3 linked regions of the Homo sapiens genome follow. The protein of the gene in region 2 interacts with the protein of the main gene of each other region in a pairwise test. Each region holds a gene or a part of one and is shown on either strand. Other genes may lie near its edges.

Evidence for each region.
Region 1: the proteins of ZNF212 (region 2) and GNL1 interact in a two-hybrid assay, tested with the Homo sapiens proteins (one study listed by BioGRID and IntAct).
Region 3: the proteins of ZNF212 (region 2) and SF3A3 interact in binary tests that used the Homo sapiens proteins (3 or more experiments, as listed by UniProt).

The regions. Positions count from the first base shown.
Region 1 is NC_000006.12:30,546,481-30,553,506, forward strand, and holds part of GNL1 (guanine nucleotide-binding protein-like 1), read right to left. Parts: coding exon 6,870-7,026; intron 6,700-6,869; coding exon 6,604-6,699; intron 6,182-6,603; coding exon 5,987-6,181; intron 1,051-5,986; coding exon 872-1,050; intron 795-871; coding exon 632-794; intron 357-631; coding exon 216-356; intron 1-215. UniProt on the Homo sapiens protein: Possible regulatory or functional link with the histocompatibility cluster.
Region 2 is NC_000007.14:149,242,633-149,249,658, forward strand, and holds part of ZNF212 (zinc finger protein 212), read left to right. Parts: intron 1-7,026.
Region 3 is NC_000001.11:37,980,014-37,987,039, forward strand, and holds part of SF3A3 (splicing factor 3A subunit 3), read right to left. Parts: intron 4,767-7,026; coding exon 4,694-4,766; intron 4,248-4,693; coding exon 4,156-4,247; intron 1,799-4,155; coding exon 1,716-1,798; intron 712-1,715; coding exon 573-711; intron 1-572. UniProt on the Homo sapiens protein: Component of the 17S U2 SnRNP complex of the spliceosome, a large ribonucleoprotein complex that removes introns from transcribed pre-mRNAs.

The DNA.
Region 1 (7,026 bases), on a different chromosome or scaffold from region 2:
AACCTTTGTGCACATCAACTTCAATCTTTACAATCACTATGCTAAGGGTCAATTATTACCCTCAGTTTGCAGATCAGGAAAATATCACAGATGTTAAGTAACAGAGCTAGCCAACAGGTACAGAATCCAGGTTTGACCCTCTCTCTGGCCACAAAGCCCACACCCTTTTACCTACGCTATAGCAGGGGGCTGGGGAAGAATATCTGGGCTCTGACCTTTCTGTTCACTGTAGCCTGGGGGATGAAAACACAGGCTGAGGCGGCCGTCCACTGCCAGCCGCAAGAGACTGTTGGCTGCTCTGTACACATCATTCCGAGCCGCCTTGGCTGTCTTGTAACCACGTTTCTCTGCCCAGGCTGGAGGAAGAAAAGAATAATGGAAAGGGAAAGCATTAACCAGGTACCAGTTATACTCCCACTCCCATAACACAGTCCTTCCAGTTTTCCCCAAAACATTCCAGGCCAGAGATCTTACTGGCTATGCAACAAAAATCTAGGGGTGAGTGGACAGCAGCTTCATCAATGGCAGAATCTCTGAGGAGAGGAAAGGAGACAGGGAAGGGTAAAAGGCGAGGCAGGTAAGGAAGAGCAGCTGAAACCAGGTGGGGCGAAGCCAGGCACATGGAACTCACCTTCACAGATGTCCCAGGCACACCAGGGGTGTTCCGCTGAGGGGTCCTCAGCCTCTGGGTGGCGCAGGTGGAGCAGGGCCTGCACGGGAATTCGGGAGGCCAGGTAGCCCACAGCAGTGTAGGGCTCCTGGATCTGGGCGATAGGGTAGATCCCTGCCAGAACCTGAGGGAAATGAGCACTCAGTACTTTCCTCAATGTCCCACCTTCTCTCTTTCCCTTACCCACCCTCCCCGTCATACCTGCAACTGCCTAGGCAGAAGAGATGGGAAGATGAGGCCTGGGCAGTCACAGAGCTTCACAGAGGGGGTAAGAAAGTAGGTCTGAAAGTATCGGGTATGGCCCGGGGTTCTGGAGACACTCACGACTTTCCGCCCCACCAGCCCATTGATCAGCGAGGACTTTCCCACATTAGGGAAACCTGAGGAAGGCAAGGAAAATTAACGTTTAACAGGTTTCTACTCTGTGATGGGACTTGGTGCTATACCTATAGGTAAAAGGGGAACTAAGGCTCAGAAATTAAGGAAATGGTATTGCAGAATACAAATCACGCTCTGGGCTGCCAGGGTTAAATCCTGGCCCTTCCACTTACCAGCTTTGTGATGTCAGGGCAACTAACTTTCTGAGCCTCTGTTTCTTCATTTTACAGTGTGGACACCTCCCTACCTCAGGGTGGTCAGGATTAAATGAGATAACCAATACAACTTGTGTGGGTCAGTGCCTGCAGTACAGTAAGTACCCAGTACCAGTGATCCACATCTCATAATTACTATGACTTGGCCTGGCACAGTGGCTCACGCTTGTAATCCCAGCGTGATTACTTTGGGAGGCCAAGGCGGGTGGATCACCTGAGGTCAGGACTTCAAGACCAGCCTGGCCAACATGGTGAAACCCCATCTCTACTAAAAATACAAAAATTAGCTGGGCGTGGTGGTGGGCGCCTGTAATTGCAGCTACTTGGGAGGCTGAGGCAGGAGAACCACTTGAACCCAGGAGGCGGAGGTTGCAGTGAGCTGAGATTGCACCATTGCACTCCAGCCTGGGCAATAAGAGGGAAACTCCATCTCAAAAAATAATAATAATAATTACGATGACTTGTCCAAGGAGAAAACTGGAAGCCTTGGGGCTCACTGCCACTCTGCTCACTCACCACCACCAGTTTTTGTGTTTCTGGCTGACTTCAGTGCCTTCATCTCCCTTCCACAGAGCATCTCCTTTACCCCACCTCAGCTGCCCACTCCCATGGTAATACCTGCATCTTGTCACTTCACAGCTCCAAAGCCTCAATTCCAAGCACCCCTCTCTGCCCTGACAACTCATCTTTCCAGCTCACTTACTCTGGTTACTCCATGCCAGTAAGTCTTTGACCCCTGACCTTAACACAGTAACACTATGCAATACCCAACTCGTGTCCTCAATTTCCTTCTTACTTGACTCAGATTTCATGATCCAGCTCCTCAGCCAGGCCCGTTCACAGACCTGGAACTCCCTGGTCCCACTTCTCCCCTCTATCTTACTCACCTGGCAAAATCCCAACCCTGTAAAATCCAGCTCTGCCCATTCAGCACTGCTCCTGGGCAGCTGACTGTGGCTAAGAAAAGATGTACCACTGTGCTCACTCTTTACAACACATGCAAGTATCTAGGAGGAAGGGAGGGAAGGAGGGAGAAAAAAGTTCTCCTTTGACGACCACCACCAGACCTAGTTCTCTGTCCGCTTTGCAGGAAAACTCCTTAAAAGACTTACCTACTTTTTTCACCATTTCTTCCTGCTATCTTCTTTGTAACTGTAAACTACAACATACAAAAAAATGCACAGAACATACATGTGCAGCCTGATGAACCCCATACCACCCAATGTGTGACAACATGTTCCATCTGTCCTTGTTTTTTTTGTTTTTGTTTTTGAGACAGAGTCTCACTCCCTCACCCGGGCTGGAGTGCAGTGGTGCGATGTTGGCTCACTACAACCTCATCCTCCCAGGTTCAAGCGATTCTCGTGCCTCAACCTCCTGAGTAGCTGAGACCACAGGCGTGCGGCTCCACACCTGGCTAACTTTTTGTATTTTTAGTAGAGATAGGGTTTTGCCATGTTGGCCAGGCTGGTCTCAAACTCCTGACCTCAAGTAATGCGCCTGCCTCAGCCTCCCAAAGTGCTAGGATTACAGGGATGAGCCACCATACCGGCCGCCACTCATCCTTCTTGATCATAATCCTCTCCCTCTATACATGCAAGCTTTATCCTTTTAAGGAAATCAACTCCTTACATTTCTCTTTAGTTTATGACCTGTGTATCTCTCAACAATGCAGCTTAATTTTGCAGCTTTCAAACTTGATAGAACTGAAATTGTGCAGTATGGATGCTATTGGGTCAGACTCTTTTCACACAATGTTATGTGAAGTTGTTGCACCTTCTCTCATGGGCCTACTCCAGTTTGGCTTTCTCCACCCCACTGAAACCACGGATCTTCACATTGCCAAGCCTGCTGAGCAGCTCTCTGTTCTCTCATTTGGCCTGTCAGCAACAGTTGACACAGCTGATTCCTCCTTTCCTCTTCAAACACCTTCTTCATTTGACTTCTGGGACGCTCCCTTGGTTTTCCTCCTTCTCACTGTCCTTTGCCCAACTAAATGCTGGCTTGTCCTAAGGCTCAGTCCTTGACCTCCTCTTCTCCAACTATTTCCTTTCTCTCCTACATCTCATCCAATTCCATGGCTTTTTTTTTTTTTTTTTTGACGAAGTCTTGCTCTGTCACCCAGGCTGGAGTGCAGTGGTATGATCTTGGCTCACCGTAACCTCTGCCTCCAGGATTCAAGCAATTCTCCTGCCTCACCCTCCTGAGTATCTGGGACTACAGGCACGCACCACCACACACGGCTAATTTTCTGTATTTTTTGGTAGAGACAGGGTTTCACCATGTTGGCCAGGCTGGTCTCAAACTCCTGGCCTCAAGTGATCCACCTGCCTCAGCCTCCCAAAGGGCTGGGATTATAGGCATGAGCCACTGTGCCCAGCCTAATCCTGTGGCTTTAAATACCACTTATATCCATCAATGGTTCCCCAAATTTAAATCTTTCCCAAATTCAAATTTCCGTCCTCTTCTCTCCCCTAAGCTGCTGACTACTTACCCACTGCCTATTCAACATCTCCACTAGGGATATTTAAAAAGAATCTGAAATTTCATTTCTGATTCCCCTCTCCTCCCCAAAGCCTTCAAATCTGCTTCTCCCCCAGTCTTCCCATCTCAGTATTTCCAGTTGCTCAAGACAAAAACCTGGAAGTCCTTCTTTATCCTCACTTTCCTTCACGTGCCAACTGCAAGCCATCAGCGATCTCATTTTCTCTACCTTCAAAATATATCATGCTTCCGGCCCTGTCTCACCACCTCCAGCTCCAGCATCCTACTCTAAGCAACTCTTATTTCTCTCCTAGATTACTGAAATAGCCTCAACTGCTCTCTCTGCTCCCTTTCTTGCCCACCCCCCATCATTTATTCTCTACTCAGGAGGTAAACTTATAAGAAACAAAATCAGATCCTATCATTCCCCTGTTCAAAACCTACCCTTGGCTTCTCATGAGACTTGGAATAAAATCCAAAATGGCTGTCACAGCCTCAGGGCTCTACATGATGTGGGCCCTGGTGATCTTGCTGACCTCATCCCCAGTACTTTATCCTGGCTCCCATACTCCAATCCCCTGGGCACTCTTGCTGGTCCTAGAATCTCCAAGCCCGTTCCCTCCTCAAGACCCTTTCCCCACAGTTCTGAATGGCTCACTTCATCTCATCATCCAGTTCTCTCCTCAGGGAGGTTTTCCCTGAGCACCTCTCCTCTCAGTCACTCTCTATCCCCTTTCATTGCTTTATTGCCTTCACTGCCCCTACATGATTTCGGATCACAAAATCTATTTACTCACAAGAAAATAAGCTCCATGAATCTACAGACCTTTTTGCCATTTCCACAGCAGTATGTCCCATCCCTAGAATATCTGGCACCTGGTTAAGTGTTCAGTACATATTTGTTGAATGGGTAAATGAATGAGAGCTGGAGGGAAATCCAAACTCAGGGGTGCCTGTGCCACAGCAAACACTCTCCCTCTCACACCACCTGGAATAGAGATCAGCTAGAGCAGAGGCTGCTAAGAGAGGGAACAGAGGCTCCTTGTGACAGGGAGACTAGGATCAGAAGTCAGGGAAGGGACAGCCGGGTGAAATGACTGGAAAGAGGAGCAATCACTCAGCAGTAAGGCAGGTTCTTCCAAAGACAAAAAGGACACAGAGATAAGTCAGGGCACTTCCAAGGAACCCAACTACCTACTCCACACTCCCAAATTTATTCTGGGTTGGGCCCTTTTTGGTTCCAATATCACCTCAGATACCATAACTTGTCCAAGGTCTCTTCTTACCTCTCCCACCCTAAATGAAGACGGGCCCTGGGTCCTAATCATACATTCCTTTTTCCTCCACTGTGAGCTGAGACAAAGCCCTTAAGAGGAGATTCTCCTTGGCAACAAACTTAAAGGGTTAAAACCTAGAAGAATACTAATTCTTGCTGAGCTCCTACTATGATTTGATAATCACTGTACTACAGACTAATTACTACAATTCAAATGGTTTATATAAACCACTTAAAACAGTGCCTGTTACATAGTAAGCACCATATAAATACTGAGTTTTAACAATAATAATTGTTATTATTGTTATCACTATTTGTCAGGCATTCTTACACTCTCTTAACACTATTCCCATCATTCCTCACATCCATTCTTTTTTTTTAAAGACAGGGTCTCTATCAGCCAGGCTGGAGTGCAGTGGCACAATCATAGCTCACTGCAGCCTTGAACTCTTGGGCTCAAGTGATCCTCCTGCCTCAGCCTCTGAAGTAGCAGAGACTACAGGCACATACCACCACACTTGGCTAGTTTTCTTTATCTTTTGTAAAGATGGGGTTTCACTATGTTGCCCAGACTAGTCTTGAGCTCCTGGTCTCAAGCAATCCTCCCACCTCAGCCTCCCAAAGCGCTGGGACTATATAGGCATGAGCCCTCACACATGGCCGTCATCCATTCTTTTACTCAGGTATCAATGTCCTTATTTTTAAAATCAAAGTAACTAAGACTCAGAGTAGCAAAATCACTTACTCAAGACCTCACAGCTGAGAAGAGGTGGAATTTAACTCAGGCTGTCATGATCCTTCCACTGCAGCAGACGCCTCTTCTGCCTTGCCCACCGCCACTGGCAGAGATCACCCCTCAGACACCCTGGGGCCTAATGAGACCTGATCGCCCTCTCTCTTCTCCGAATATGAAAACTCTGTACCTCCTTGGAGGCCACCACGCACAAGCTGCCACTTCCTTACCCACACAGCCGATGGTCACCACCCCATCCTTGTAGCGCTCTTGGGTTGGGCCAGTTGGCTCCATTGCTGAATCAGTCTGCTGCTCCACCAGGACTGCTGGGCCATCCTCCTCTTCCTCCTCCTCCCCAGAGCCATTACCCCAGGTGGCCCCAGCCACATCCCGAGCAATCTTCTCCCGCCAGCTGCTCAAGTCCACTGCTCAAAGAAGGAGAAGATTAAAGAGGTTCTCCCCAGGGCTGCTGTGCATGATGGCACATACTGTGCCCTGCACAGATTATGTAACTGGCACCCTCTGGAGTTGTACAGTGCCAACCTAAATAAGAGCAGGTCAGAGAATCTCCCAAAAGTCATTTGACCCTACCCTCCCTGGAATCACGCACGTTTCTCTGAGCTTCTGAAAAGTACTGGGAAGGCTAAAGGCAGCAAGCCACTGAGGCTCCTGACTACCTGCTGCCTCTCGTCCCACCAAGTCAGTCTGCTCCTTATTCTGTCCCTTCCCCTGGCCTCTTGCACATATCCACCATAGAGGGGTTGGCTTCAGGAAAGGTGAGCAAAATGATTCTGCATCTTTGGTCTCCCCCATGTCCTCCTACAGCCCTCCTCTAAGGGCCACATACCTTTCCCCACAGTGATGGCTTCACAGGCTCTCAGCAACTGCTCTGGCCCCAGGGCCCGAGTCCATCCTCTCCCCCGCCTCCGACTCTTCTTCAAGACTGAGATCAGAGGGCACAAAAGGATGGGCACACGGGCTTAGGCCTCTCATCTCTCCCACCACCCTTAGGCCCAAGACCAGGTGCCCCCTTGTCAATAAGCCTCTCTGTTCTCCCCTTTGTCCCCTGCCAACTCACCTCTCCCAAGTTGCCCTCTCTCATTGCCCACTCACCACTACTAGGGTCCTGTGGGGTGCGGGGGTCCCGAGGAAAAGAGGTGAAAAGGACGACGTGGAGCTGGGGATAGTGTTGATGGAAATAATGCTTCCAGGCAACCACAAGAGCTGGCGGGGCCAGATCCACCTTGTTCAAAACCAGCACCAGGGCCAG
Region 2 (7,026 bases):
AAATAGAAAGTCTGAAAATATGAGAAGATGTGATGATGCATGGAAATGGTTAAATCTAAACAAATAGTGACTTAATAAAACGTAACAATTTCTTGTTGTGTTAAAAACAATTAAAATACATGATGGCATTGATGTAAATATGAGGAAGAGATGATCAGAACTAAAGTGTTTAAAGGGCTTTGTTAAAGGGCCTTCTATGTATGTTTCCCATAATTTCTAGGATACTTGCTAAACAACTCGAAATTGGTCGTATAACTTACAGATCAGAAAGGGGGATAATGGAATAAGAAAAAATTAATGTAAAAGAAGACAAGAAAGTAGAGAAGAAAGATGGGATAAATAGCACAAAAAAGGTAAAAATAAATCAAAGCTAATGAACAATTACAATAAATGTAAATGAATGAAATGTTCAAGTTAAAAGGCATAGATTGTCAGGATGGGGGAAAAATCCAACTAGATGGTTTAAAAGAGTTACAACCGGCTGGGCGTGGTGGCTCACGCCTGTAATCCCAGCACTTTGGGAGGCAAAGTTGGGTGGATCATGAGGTCAGGAAATTGAGACCATCCTGGCTAACACAGTGAAATTCCGTCTCTACTAGAAATACAAAAAATTAGCCAGATGTGATGGTGGGTGCCTGTAGTCCCAGCTTCTTGGGAGGCTGAGGCAGGAGACTGGCGTGAACCCAGGAGGCGGAGGTTGCTGAGGCAGGAAAATCACTTGAACCTGGGAGGCAAAGGTTGCAGTGAGCCAAGATTGCGCCACTGCACTCCAGCCTGGGTGACAGAGTGAGACTCCGTCTCAAAAAAAAAAAAAAAAAAAAAAAAAAGAGAGAGAGAGAGAGATACAACTAAAAGATAAGGATATAGAAACAGTTGAATATAAAAGGTCATGAAAAAATATGCCAAGCAAATACTAATGAAAATAAAGTTGACAAATATATTTAGTATCTTTAGAGATAGAAGGCTCCTACTACTTTTGTAATGGTAAAAGACTCAATTTACCAGCTAGATACAAAATTTCTAAACCTGTATGCACCTAATTACATAGCCTAAAAATATATAAAACAAAACTGACAGAATTGCGAGAAAGATTCACTGTTATAATAGGAGATTTTAATACAACCTTAGTATTTTATCAAATAGAAAAGACTTATAAGGGTGTAGTGCATCCAGTAGAACTTCCCAAGATGATAGAAATGTTCTGCTCTGCACTGTTTAATACAGTGGCCACTAGGCACATGTGGCTTTTGAGCACTTGAAATGTTAGCTAGTATGATTGAGGAACTGAGTTTTAAATTTTATTTATTTATTTTGAGACAGACTCTCACTCTGTCACCCAGGCTGGAGTAGAGTGGTGCAATCTTGGCTCACTGCAACCTTGCAACCTCTGCCTCCCAGTTTCAAGTGATTCTTCTGCCTCAGCCTCCTGAGTATCTGGGATTACAGTCATGTGCCACCACACCCGGCTAATTTTGTATTTTTAGTAGAGACAGGGTTTCATCATGTTGGTCAGGCTGGTCTTGAACTCCTGACCTCAAGTGATCCGGCTGTCTTGGCCTCCCAAAGGGTTGGGGTTACAGGCACGAGCCACTGTGCCCGGCTAATTTTATTTAACCAGCCACATGTGACTAGTGGATATTATATTGGAAGCACAGGTACAGAAATGATTATTTTTATTTTTATTTTTATTTTTTTTCTGAGACAGAGTCTCTCTCTGTTGCCCAGACTGGAGTGCAGTGGTGCGATCTCGGCTCACTGCAAGCTCCGCCTCCCGGGTTCATGCCATTCTCCTGCCTCAGCCTCCCCAGTGGCTGGGACTGCAGGAGCCCGTCACCACGCCCGGCTAATTCTTTTGTATTTTTAGTAGAGATGGGGTTTCACCATGTTAGCCAGGATGGTCGCGATCTCCTGACCTCATGATCCGCCCACCTTGGCCTCCCAAAGGGCTGGAATTATGGGCGTGAGCCACTGCACCTGGCCAGAAATGATTTTTTTAATCCATATATCTATCAGTATATAATATCAAAGTGTAGAGACAAAATGAAAACAAAAGAGAGGAGGCAAAAATAAAAACCTATTGGGAATGAAAATGTGTGCATTCCCATGTCTATTGGTTGATGCTGGTGTGTAGACTGAGATTGTAGGTAAGGCCGTTGAACAGAACACTTCATGCACCCTCTTCATGTGGCTTGGGATTTCTCAAGGGATTCTAGCACCTGGCTGCCTGTGATTTGCCCCACTTGACAGAGAGTGGAGCAGAGACGAACCATCCATGTGCCACCCTCCTTTAACTGCAGATTCACATGCAAAGTAGATGATGATGTCTTAAGCCACTAAATTTGGGGATTATTTGTCATACAGGAGTTGATGGTTGGAATAGATACCTAGGGAAAATGTTAAAACATTGAAAGATATTAAAAATGGAGTCTCAAAAGGCTGGGCATGGTGGCTCATGCCTATAATCCTAGCACTTTGGGAGGCTGAGGCAGGTGGATCATTTGAGGTCAGGAGTTTGAGACCCGCCTGGGCAACATGGTGAAACCCTGTCCCTACTAAAAATACAGAAAAATTAACCAGGAGTGGTGGCACACACCTGTAATCCCAGCTACTTGGGAGGCTGAGGCAGGAGAATCACTTGAACCTGAGACAGAGGTTGCAGTAAGCTGAGATCATGCCACTGCACTCCAGCCTGCAGCCTGGGCGACAGAGCGAGAGACTCCATCTCAGAAAAAAAAAAAAAAAAAGGATTTGCATACTATGTTTATGAATTGAAATTCATCCTAAATGTGTCACTTTTCTGTTGGGTGGGGTGACTCATGCCTGTAATACCAGGACGTATAATCGTGCCACTGCCCTCCAGCCTGGGTGACAGAGTGAGACCGTGTCTTTATTTATTTGAGACAGAATCTCTCTCTGTCACTGGAGGGAAGTGGTGTGATCATGGCTTCCTGCAGCCTCAATCCCCTGGGCTCAAGTGATCTTCCCACCTCAGCTTCCTGAGTGGCTGGAACTATAGGCACCTGTCATCATGCCTGGCTAATTTTATTGTCTTTTTGTAGAGATGGGATTTCACCATCTTGCCCTGGCTGTTCTTGAACTCCTGGGCTCAAGCTGTCCTCCCGCCTCAAGCCTCCCGAAGTGCTGGGATTACAGACTCGAGCCACTGTGCCCAGCCATAGATTCCCCAAGTGGGATTGCTAGGTAAAAGGGTTTTTAATGACTTGAAATTTTTCTTCCCCTAAGAGTGTGTAGTATTTTTCATTCCTTCCAGGAGTGTTATGAGAGTCAGTTTACCACATTATAGTCAGCTCTGAATGTTATTCTTTGTGTCTGTTTCATGTTTGTCAGTCTGATGGGTGAACGTGCTTTCACTTAGTTATATTTGGATTCCTGATTGTAAGGTGGTTGTGTTTTCATTTGTTTATTGACTGCCTGCATTTCCGCTTCCATGAATGATTTACAATCTGCAGTTTTATTTTGGGGTTCTTGACCTTTTTCCACTTCATATTCTGTTTACAAATATTCTCTCCTTGTTTTTAGACTTTGTTTATGTTATCTTTTATTACAGCTAGCATTTTCTCCTACTTTGACATTCTAAGACGTGTTTATTGAGATACCATTTACATACAGTAAAATTTACTCTTTAGGCAGATAGTTCAACAAATTTTGACAAATGTGTAGCCAGCATATTACCAAGATAGAGAATATTTCCATCATCCAAGAAAGTTCCCTCATATCCCTTTATAATCAGTCTTTTTTTTTTTTTTTGAGACGGAGTCTTATTCTGTTGCCCAGGCTGGAGTGCAGTGACGTGATCTCAGCTCACTGCAGGCTCCGCCTGCTGGGTTCACACCATTCTCTCGCCTCAACCTCCCAAGTAGCTGGGACTACAGGCACCTGCCACCACACCTGGCTAATTTTGTTTTTGTATTTTTAGTAGAGATGGGGTTTCACCATGTTAGCCAGGATGGTCTTGATCTCCTGACCTCATGATCAATCCGCCCTCCTCGGCCTCCCAAAGTGCTGGGGTTATAGGTGTGAGCCACTGTGCCTGGCCTATAATCAATATTTTTCTCCTATCCCTAGCCCTTGGCAACCACTGATCTGATTTCTGTCCCTATAGTTTGCTTTTTTCCAAACATGTAAATGAAACACAAATGTAGCCTTTTGTGTCTGAATTCTTTTTTTTTTTTTTTTTTTTTGGAGTTTTGCTCTTGTTGCCCAGGCTGGAGTACAATGGTGTGATCTCGGTTCACCGCAACCTCCGCCTCTCAGGTTTAAGTGATTCTCCTGCCTCAGCCTCCCGAGTAGCTGGTATTACAGGCATGCGCCACCATGCCCGGCTCATTTTGTATTTTTAGTAGAGATGGGGTTTCTCCATGTTGGTCAGGCTGGTCTCGAACTCCCAACCTCAGGTGATCCGCCCGCCTCGGCCTCCCAAAGTGCTGGGATTTTAGGTGTGAGCCACCATGCCCGGCCCTTCTTTTTTTTTTTTTTAAGTGGTCTTACTTTGTCACTCAGGCTGGAGTGCAGTAGTGTGATCATGGTTCACTGCAACCTTGAACTCCAGGGCTCAAGTGATCCTCCCATCCTCAGCCTCCCAAGTAGCTGGGACTATAGGCACATGCCACCACGTCTGGCTCATTTTAAAAAAATTGTGGAGGTGGGGGTCTTGCTTTGTTGCCCAGGCTGATCTTGAACTCCTGGGCTCAAGTGATCCATCTTAGCCTCCCAAAGTGTTGGGATTATAGGTATGAGCCACCGTGCCTGACCTTTGTCTGATTCCCGTCACTTAGCATGTTGTTAAACATGTCAGTGATTTTGGTTCCTTTTTATTACATAGTAGTAGACTTAGTAGTCGAAGTAGTAGTCTACTACTAAGTAGCAGGCTTAGTAGTCTTCTAAGCTATATAGGAAAAATACACTAAATATATAATACGGTATATAATGAAGTGTCTTATATAGTGTGTCTGTTTCCTAGGGCTGGTGTAACAAACTGGGAAGCTTAAATAACAGAAATTCTGTCTCACAGTTCTGGAGGTTAGGAGTCTGAAATCAAGATGTTTGCAGGGTTGGTTCCTTATGAGTTTTGTGTTTCTCTCCTAGCTTCTGGTGGTCCCATGTGTTTTCTTGGTTTGTGGCAGCATAAGTCCAGTCTCTGCCTTAATCTTGACATGGCCCATTATGTATTGGTGTAACAGAATACATGAGGCTGGGTAATTCATGAAGAAAAGAGGTTTAGTTGGCTCACAATTCTGGTGGCTGGAAAGTTCAAGATTGGGCAGCTGTGTCTAGTGAGGGCTTCAAGCTGCTTAAACTCATGGCAGAAAATGGAAGGGCAGCAGGTGTGTGTAGAGATCACATGGTGACAGAGGAGGCAAGAGAGAGACCAAAGAAGTCAGACTGTTTCACAACCCACTGTAGTGGGAACTAATCCATTCCTGCCAATGACAGCTCACCCCTGTGGGAGCGCATTAATTTATTTATGAGGGATATGCCCTCATGACCCAAACACCTCCCACGAGACTTCACCTCCCGACACTGCCACATTGGAAATACAATTTCAACATGGGTTTTGGTGAGGACAAACCATAGTAGACATCTTCTCCCTGTGTGTGTGTGTGTCTGCGTCTAAAGGTCCTCTGTTTTAAGGACATCAGTCATTGGATTAAGGCCCATCCTAATGACCTCATTTTAACCTGATTACCCTTGGAAGTACCTTATTTCCAAGTAAGATCACATCCTGAGGTACTGAGGATTAGGGTTTTACTGTATTATTTTGAGGAGACACAATTCAACCCATAACACTGGATGGATCACAATTTTTTCATCCATTGACTGGTTCGTGAACATTTGAATTGTTCCCATCATGCTAGATAATTCAAAACAGAAGACAAGAAGAAACTAGCTTAATCATTCTTTTCAACCTCTTACTATGTGGAAGAGGAGGGGGCTTATTCCTTTGCACAGATTCTCACCTACATTCCTGTCTAGAAAAAGTGCTACTGAGCACAGAATGCTGGGCCACAGAAAGAGGAGACTCACAGACTTAAAGTAGAAGCAAAACAAACATGATGGCATGCATATATCCAGTTTAATATTTTGTTTTGTTTCGCTTGTATTTGTCTTTTACATTGAACTTTTCTTTTAATCTCTTGCAGGAGGATGTATTTAAGCTTTTGTCTCATGTGTTCCATGATGAATTAACTGACTTGAGTAACTAGAGTAGGTCATGGCCAAACTTAAATGTTCAGTTCTGCACCAGTCAGTTTCCTTTTGTCCCATGTTCTCTGGACCACAACCCTTGGCCCCAGCAGTTCTTTCCGAGATATTTCCTCTAGTGTCTCGGTCTTGGTGGCCTCACTGTGGTTAGAGAAGCAGCCTTGAATAAAGTGTGTGCTTTATTCAAATAAAGTGAAGTTTGCAGAGGGGGTTAGGACTGAAGTGAACGTGCAGGGAGACAGTAGGGGGACAGCTTGGGGAAGACTTCCCCAGTGTTGGTTTCAGTAATTTTAGCTTCTATGACAGTGATTTTCCTACTGTCAGAGACAGCTCATTAAAGTGAAAATTATAAGGAAAATGTCAGTAGACTTAGTCACATCATTTCAGTAAATATTTTTTAAGGATTTATTCACCATCCCAGCTGCTAGAGTGCAAAGATGAATGAATTAGGTCTTGTAGGTCCTGCTAAGGAATTTTGTCTTTATTGTGGGGAGCCATTGAAAGTTTTCAAACGGGTGACATGATCAACTATGAAGTCTGGCAGGGATGTGGAAGCAAGATAAGATGTAAGTGACATCTTTTATCATATAGTCCAAAACATTAAATAAAAATAGGTTTAAAAATGAACACTGATACAGGAGTCTCAGAGAATATGCTAAGCATAAAGCATAGGTAACAGAACATACACGCTATAATTTCACTTTTGTTGAAAAAAAATAAACTAAAAGATGAAAAAAAACTTTAGAAATACACCAAAATTCAAACAGCTTCTTTCTTTCTTTTTCTTTTTTGAGACAGGGTCTC
Region 3 (7,026 bases), on a different chromosome or scaffold from region 2:
TCTGATAAGCTCTTGGTTGGCAGGAACCACATAGCAGTAATGATGTGATTGGTGAAAATCTGGGCACAGTCAAAGGCAAGTGGACCCTGGCAGTCTTGCTCCAAAGTACACTCAAAAAAACTCACATACGGCCAGGTGCGGTGGCTCACACCTGTAATCCCAGCACTTTGGGAGGCCGAGGTGGGCGGATCACCTGAGGTCGGGAATTTGAGACCAGCCTGACAAATATGGAGAAACCCTGTCCCCACTAAAAACACAAAATTAGCCGGGTGTGGAGGCGCGTGCCTGTAATCCCAGTTACTCGGGAGGCTGAGGCAGGAGAACTGCTTGAACCCGGGAAGCGGAGGTTGAGGTGAGCCGAGATCCCGCCATTGTACTCCAGCCTGGGCAACAAAAGCGAAACTCCGTCTCCAAAAAAAAAAAACATAGCATACTTGGCAGGGAATACCTCATTGTCACAAGTGATACCAAGGAATTGATACCTAATGCCCTAAAGTGGAAGCTCAAGATAAAGGAAAATAATTACTTCAATTCCCTGGCATGTCCACCATTCACATCCCACTGAAGCTCACCGGCCATCCAGGAAAGGTCCCATTCTCCCATTTCTTCTCAAACTCAGCCTGAATCTTCCCAAAAAGTTCATTCTGATCTTGGAGAGGCTTCACTCTATCTGTGTAATCCTGAAGGTACTCAAGCAGCATCTCTAGGTATCTACAGAGGAACACACAATGCAGACAAAGCAAAAAGGGTTTCTATTTTTGGTATCTTGTTATTCCCTGCAGAATATAAAGTACTTATAATTCTAGTAATGCTATCTTTTTAATACTCTTTTTTTTTTTTTTTTTTTTTTTTTGAGGCAGAGTTTCGCTCCTCTTACCCAGGCTGGAGTGCAATGGCGGGATCTTGGCTCACCACAACCTCCGCCTCCCGGGTTAAAGCGATTCTCCTGTCTCAGCCTCCCGAATAGCTGGGATTACAGGCATGCGCCACCATGCCCGGCTAATTTTGTATTTTTAGCAGAGACGGTGTTTCTCCACGTTGGTCAGGCTGGTCGCGAACTCCTGACCTCAGGTGATCCGTCTGCCTCGGCCTCCCAAAGTGCTGGGATTACAGGTGTGAGCCACCGCGCCCGGCCAATACTCATTTTTAAATGAACTTACAATGGACTTTTTTCCCAACATGTCATTTTGATTCTGACCTTTCCCGCCTCCTTTTATTCTCATAAAATGATGCTAAATACTAAGGTCTTAATTACTTTGCACATAAAAGATTTCAGTAAAAAGAAAATGAGAAAAAGAGGGGAAGGGTATAAAATCACTAATCAGGAGAGTAATTAACAAAAACATAAATTTTTCACTTATACATCACACCTAAGCATCTCACTTCAGTCACTATCTGAGAAAGTCTAATTTTTTTTCCCATTAAACTCCAAAAACACAGAAATCCCAGAGTGGGAGAGTTCCTTCTATAATGAGACAAAATTAAGAACACTATGGGCATAAGATGGAAGATGTGCCCACAGACACACCTTTGTCCACGTCCAGACTATCGCAAAGGTTTTAAAACCACATCATTCATAACCCCATCCTCCAATAAACCTGGAAGTATGCCTTCATGTATGCCTTCCAGGCAACAAATTCAGAACTTCACCCTCAAAAACTTCACATTATCTTCTAATCAAATCCAGGAGAGGCCTAGAAACTATTAATGCCTACCTCTTATACTCTGCATTCTTCCTTTCTTTAGGAATGTCAAATAATTGGTCAAAGATGGACAGGTATGTGATATAATCCAGCTTCTGAAAAGAGGAAAGAAATGACAAGAAATTCAGTTAGGTATTTATACTGTAACAAGTTACAATATAATCTCCAATAAGTGAGATCAAAATTGAGTGTTTTCTAAAGAAGTAACAAGGGCTGGCTAATTTTGGTTTTTTTTGCTTGCCTATCATTCAATCCTACTACAACTGGAGTGTTAATTTCACTGGACTGAAGGAAAATATCAGACATAATAACTTTACAAAATAAAGATCAAGTTAATGAACATTAAACTAAAAGAAACGTTTGTCGATTATTACCTCATGCTAGGGTCTTGGTTAAAGACTCTGACACCCTAAAACAAGGTGCTCAAAGGTGCCATTTGTTCACGCAAGTAACTACTTATTAAGCATCTTTGTACCAAGTACGGGGTACAGAAAACAACAAAACAGACAAGGGATCTGACTTGCCTGCATGGAACTTGAAGTTTGGTCACTACAACTCTGGGACATTTCTTCACAATTCCATGAGGAATCTAATCATGGATTTCCTTGTGATCCTTTTGAGATTGTCATATTAAACCTCATCTCTTGTGATAAGCTATTTTTTTTTTTTTTGAGACGGAGTTTGGCTCTTGTTGCCCAGGCTGGAGTGCAATGGCATGATCTCGGCTCACCACAACCTCCACCTCATGGGTTCAAGCGATTCTCCTGCCTCAGCCTCCTGAGTAATTGGGATTACAGGCATGAGCCACCATGCCCGGCTAATTTTTTCTATTTTTAGTAGAGACAGGGTTTCTGCATGTTGGTCAGGCAGGTCTTGAACACCTGACCTCAGGTGATCCACCTGCCTTGGCCTCCCAAAGTGCTGGGGTTACAGGCGTGAGCCACCGCGCCCGGCCTGTGATAAGCTATTTTTAAACATCTTTAAGAAAAGACATTAAATACCTTTTTGCTGACTGAAAGATCATGTTGTTTTATTTTCCATGTACCTAGTATTGTTTGTGTCTAAAACAGGAACACCTAGAAGAACACATAAATCTGGGTGGGCACAGTGGCTCATGCCTGTAATCCCAAGGCTTTGAGAAGCTGAGGCAGGAGGATTGATTGAGTCCAGGAGTCCAAGACTAGCCTGGACAATACAGTGAAACCCTATTTCTACAAAAAAAAATTTTTTTTTTTGAGTTTGAGTTTTGCTCTTGTTGCCCAGGCTGGAGTGCAATGAATGACACAATCTCGGCTTACCGCGACCTCCGCCTCCTGGGTTCAAGCGATTCTCCTGCCTCAGCCTCCTGAGTAGCTAGGATTACAGGCATGCGCCACCATGCCCAGCTAATTTTGTATTTTTAGTAGAGACGGGGTTTCTCCATGTTGGTCAGGCTGGTCTTGAACTCCTGACCCCAGGTGATCTGCCCACCTTGGCCTCCCAAAGTGCTAGGATTACAGGCGTGAGCAACTGTGTCCAGCCAGGAACATGGTATTTATTTAAAAAAAAAAAAAAAAAAAAAAGAATTTAAAGAAATCTTATGTAAGGCTGGATGCAGTGGCTTCCGTCTATAATCCCAACACTTTGTGAGGCCAAGACAGACGGATTGCTTGAGCTCAGGAGTTTAAGACCAGCCTTGGCAACATGGCAAAACCCCATCTCTACACAAAATACAAAAAATTAGCTGGGCATGGTGGCACACGCCTGTAGTCCCAAGTACTTGGTGGGGCTGAGGCGGGATCCATCACTTGAGTCCAAGAGGTCTAGGCTACAGTGAGCCAAGATCGCGCCACTGCACTCCAGCCTGGGTGACAAAGTGAGACCCTGTCTCAAAAAAAAAAAAAAAAAAAAAAGATTTATTTTGGCAAAGGTAAAATATGCTTGCTGTATTGATAATGGACTGGGTACAATGGCTCATGCCTGTATCCCAACACTGTGGGAGGCCGAGACAGGAGGATCATTTGAGGTCAGGAGTTTGTGACCAGCCTGGGCAACACTGCAAGACCCCATCTTTACAAAAAAAGACAAAAATTAGCCAAGTGTGGTGGTGGTATGCACCTGTAGCCTCAAATACTCAGAAGGCTAAGGCAGGAGATCACTTGAGCCCAGAAGTCGAGGTTGCAGTGAGCAAAGATCATACCACTGCACTCCAGACTGGGCAACATGGTAAGACCTCATCTCAAAATAAAAAAAAAAGTATTAATAAATAAATATGCTTCTTGTTTTCACTGTAGAAAACTTTCATTTTGAATAGTATTTCATTCCAAGAGAGCATATCACCTCTTTAATATTTACATAAGAGTTTTAAAACACAAGGAAGACACTTTACAATGGCTTCATGTCTGCTAGTTCCAGCCTACTGTCCTGACTCACTTCGAGAATCAGAACCTCTCTGCCCTTTCCCAGGCCTTACCTCAGATGCCTTCAGGTTAATGTACTTGAGGTAACAGTCATGGAGATCGAGATAACGACCATATCCCTCTTCATCTGTGAACTCCACCAAGTCTGAGGGAATCAGATACATCAATGATTCAGTTTCTACAGACCACTCTCTTGGACTTACCTTTTCAAATGGACTGTGTGTTCCTAGTTTCCTGAGGCAGCACTTCACCCAAATGTCTTCCCTTTGCTCACAATATAACCTCCAATAAGTTAAGTGAGATCAAAAGTGAGTTTTCTCTTACAAGGTAACAAGGACTGACTCATTTTAGTATTGTGAACTAAAGTGAACAATCCTTGGCTTTCCAAGCCAGTAAATTTGAGGTAGGAGAGAACAAAATGAACATTTTGCCCAAGACCAACTTAGGATGTCACTCTAGCCCAGAAACCAGCAAAGACAAAACCAGCAAGAAATCCTGGCTATAAATATCTCTGAGGCCATGGCTGCAAATCTGAGCTGTCATTAACCTGTATTTTTGCTGGTGCTGAATGAAATTTTCACCCCTACTTACTTTGTGCCTCTTCACTTGGATTCTCTCGAGCCTTCAGGAGTTCCTCAAATTCCACTGACATTGGCACACAGATCTGAGGGGAAAAGTAAAAGCTCAGGTGGATTTTTCTTTTTGCTTTTGAGATGGATTCTCACTCTGTGGCCCAGGCTGGAGTGCACTGGCACAATCTTGGCTCACTGCAACCTCTACCTCCCGGGTTCAAGCGATTGTCCTGCCTCGGCCACCCGAGTAGCTGGGATTATAGGCACACACCACCACGCTTGGCTAATTCTTGTATTTTTAGTAGAGACAGGGTTTTGCCATGTTGCCCAGGCTGGTCTCAAACTCCTAAGCTCAAGTGATCTGCCCACCTTGGCCTCCCAAAGTGCTGGGATTACAGGCATGAGCCACTGTGCCTGACCGCAGGCGGATTTTTCAATGTAAAAGTTGCAAGATCACAGAAATGAAATACACAGAAAGTTGGACTTCTGATGATTTATTTGGCCTTGATTTTTCACTAGGAAATCTACTACTGTTCTCCAATTACCTTGTTTTTCCCCGCTTTTTTGTACTGTTTGAGTAAAACCCACTAAAGTAACACATGCTCACAAAAACTCAAAAGTCCACCTTTATTAATTCTCCTGAGAACAGGTGACCACTGTTAACAGAGCTTTTGCTATGCCAGTGGTTCCCAAACTTTGCTGCACATTAGAATCACCTGGGGGAGTTTTTTTTTTAAATCCTGATGCACCTGATACCAATTAAATCAAAGGAGGGCAGGTATCAGTACTTTTTAAAGATCCCCAGGTGGCTCAAATATGCACAAAGTTTGGAAAACAGTGCTCTATGTATTTAAATATATGTATTTGTACAAGTACATTCATGCCTGCATAGGTTTTTGTTTTTGTTTTTTTAACATAAAAGACTTGCGTCTGACATTTAGTATATCTTGGGCATCCTTCTAATCAGTTATTTAAGCATTTATTCCTCATTACCTTTTGACCATGGCTGGAATAAGGTTAACACATCAGAATGGTATTCATTTATTCTCCCTTGGTTAGCAGAAGACCTCATTCTCTATCCTCCAAGGGGGCTATGTGTGTGAGGGTCCCTTCATTTACCTCCGCGCTATGTATTGCAATAAACAGCCTCTATTTTTTGCTGTTTTTAGTCTCTTCCTTTTTCCCTGTGCTCCTTCAAATAAGTATGCTTCTCTGTCTTCCCCAATACCCTCCTGTTTCTCCCCTTCTTTTTCCTACCAGACTTTTTTTTTTTTTTTTTTTGACGGAGTCTTGCTCTGTTGCCCAGGCTGGAGTGCAGTGGCGTGATCTCAGCTCACTGCAACCTCCATGTCCTGGGTTCAAGCGATTCTCCTGTCTCAGCCTCATGAGAAGCTGGGATCACAGGCGTGCACCACCATGCCCGGCTAATTTTTGTGTTTTTAGTAGAGAGAGGTTTCACCATTTTGGCCAGGCTGGTCTCCAACTCCTGACCTCAGATGATCGACCCGCCTCGGCCTCCCAAAGTGCTGGGATTACAGGCGTGAGTCACTGCACCTGGCTACCAGCCTTTCAAATGCATGTTCCATACTCCATACTTCTACTTCCCCATTACCCATCTTTACCTTGTGACCAGATTTCCATTCATACTACTTTAATGAAGCAGCAATCCTGGCAGATATAAATCAATAACAGTTGACACCATGACTGCCTTTCTGAAACTCTCTTTTGCTTAACTTCAGTAAGGCAACACCACCTGGAGTGGTCATGTGACCTTTCTGATGGAAGCCTTCCCAGGCCCTTTTTCTCTTTACCTTATTATAAGTGAGCTCCAGGGCATATGAGGGCCGGGCGCGGTGGCTCATGCCTGTAATCCCAGCACTTTGGGAGGCCGAGGTGGGCGGATCACAAGGTCAGGAGATAGAGACTATCCTGGCTAACATGGTGAAACCCTGTCTCAACTAAAAAATACATAAAATTAGCCAGGCGTGGTGGCAGGCACCTGTAGTCCCAGCTACTCAGGAGGCTGAGGAAGGAGAATGGCATGAACTCGGGAGGTGGAGCTTGCAGTGAGCCGAGATCATGCCACTGCACTCCAGCCTGGGCAACAGAGCGAGACTCCATCTCAAAAAAAAAAAAAAAAAAAAAGACAGAGTTAGGAACACAATTTATTGGGGAGAGTAATTTCTGTGAAAGATAAAAAGGAAGAGAAAGTAGGATTAGGACAGGATAGCCTAGACCACAATGCAGATTGGACAAAATCTTGACCAACCCAACGGGGAGCCATGGAGCAAAGATTATTCATCAGAGGAGTCTCAGAGTGGACCAAATTGCTGGGCCCTAGTACCCATACTG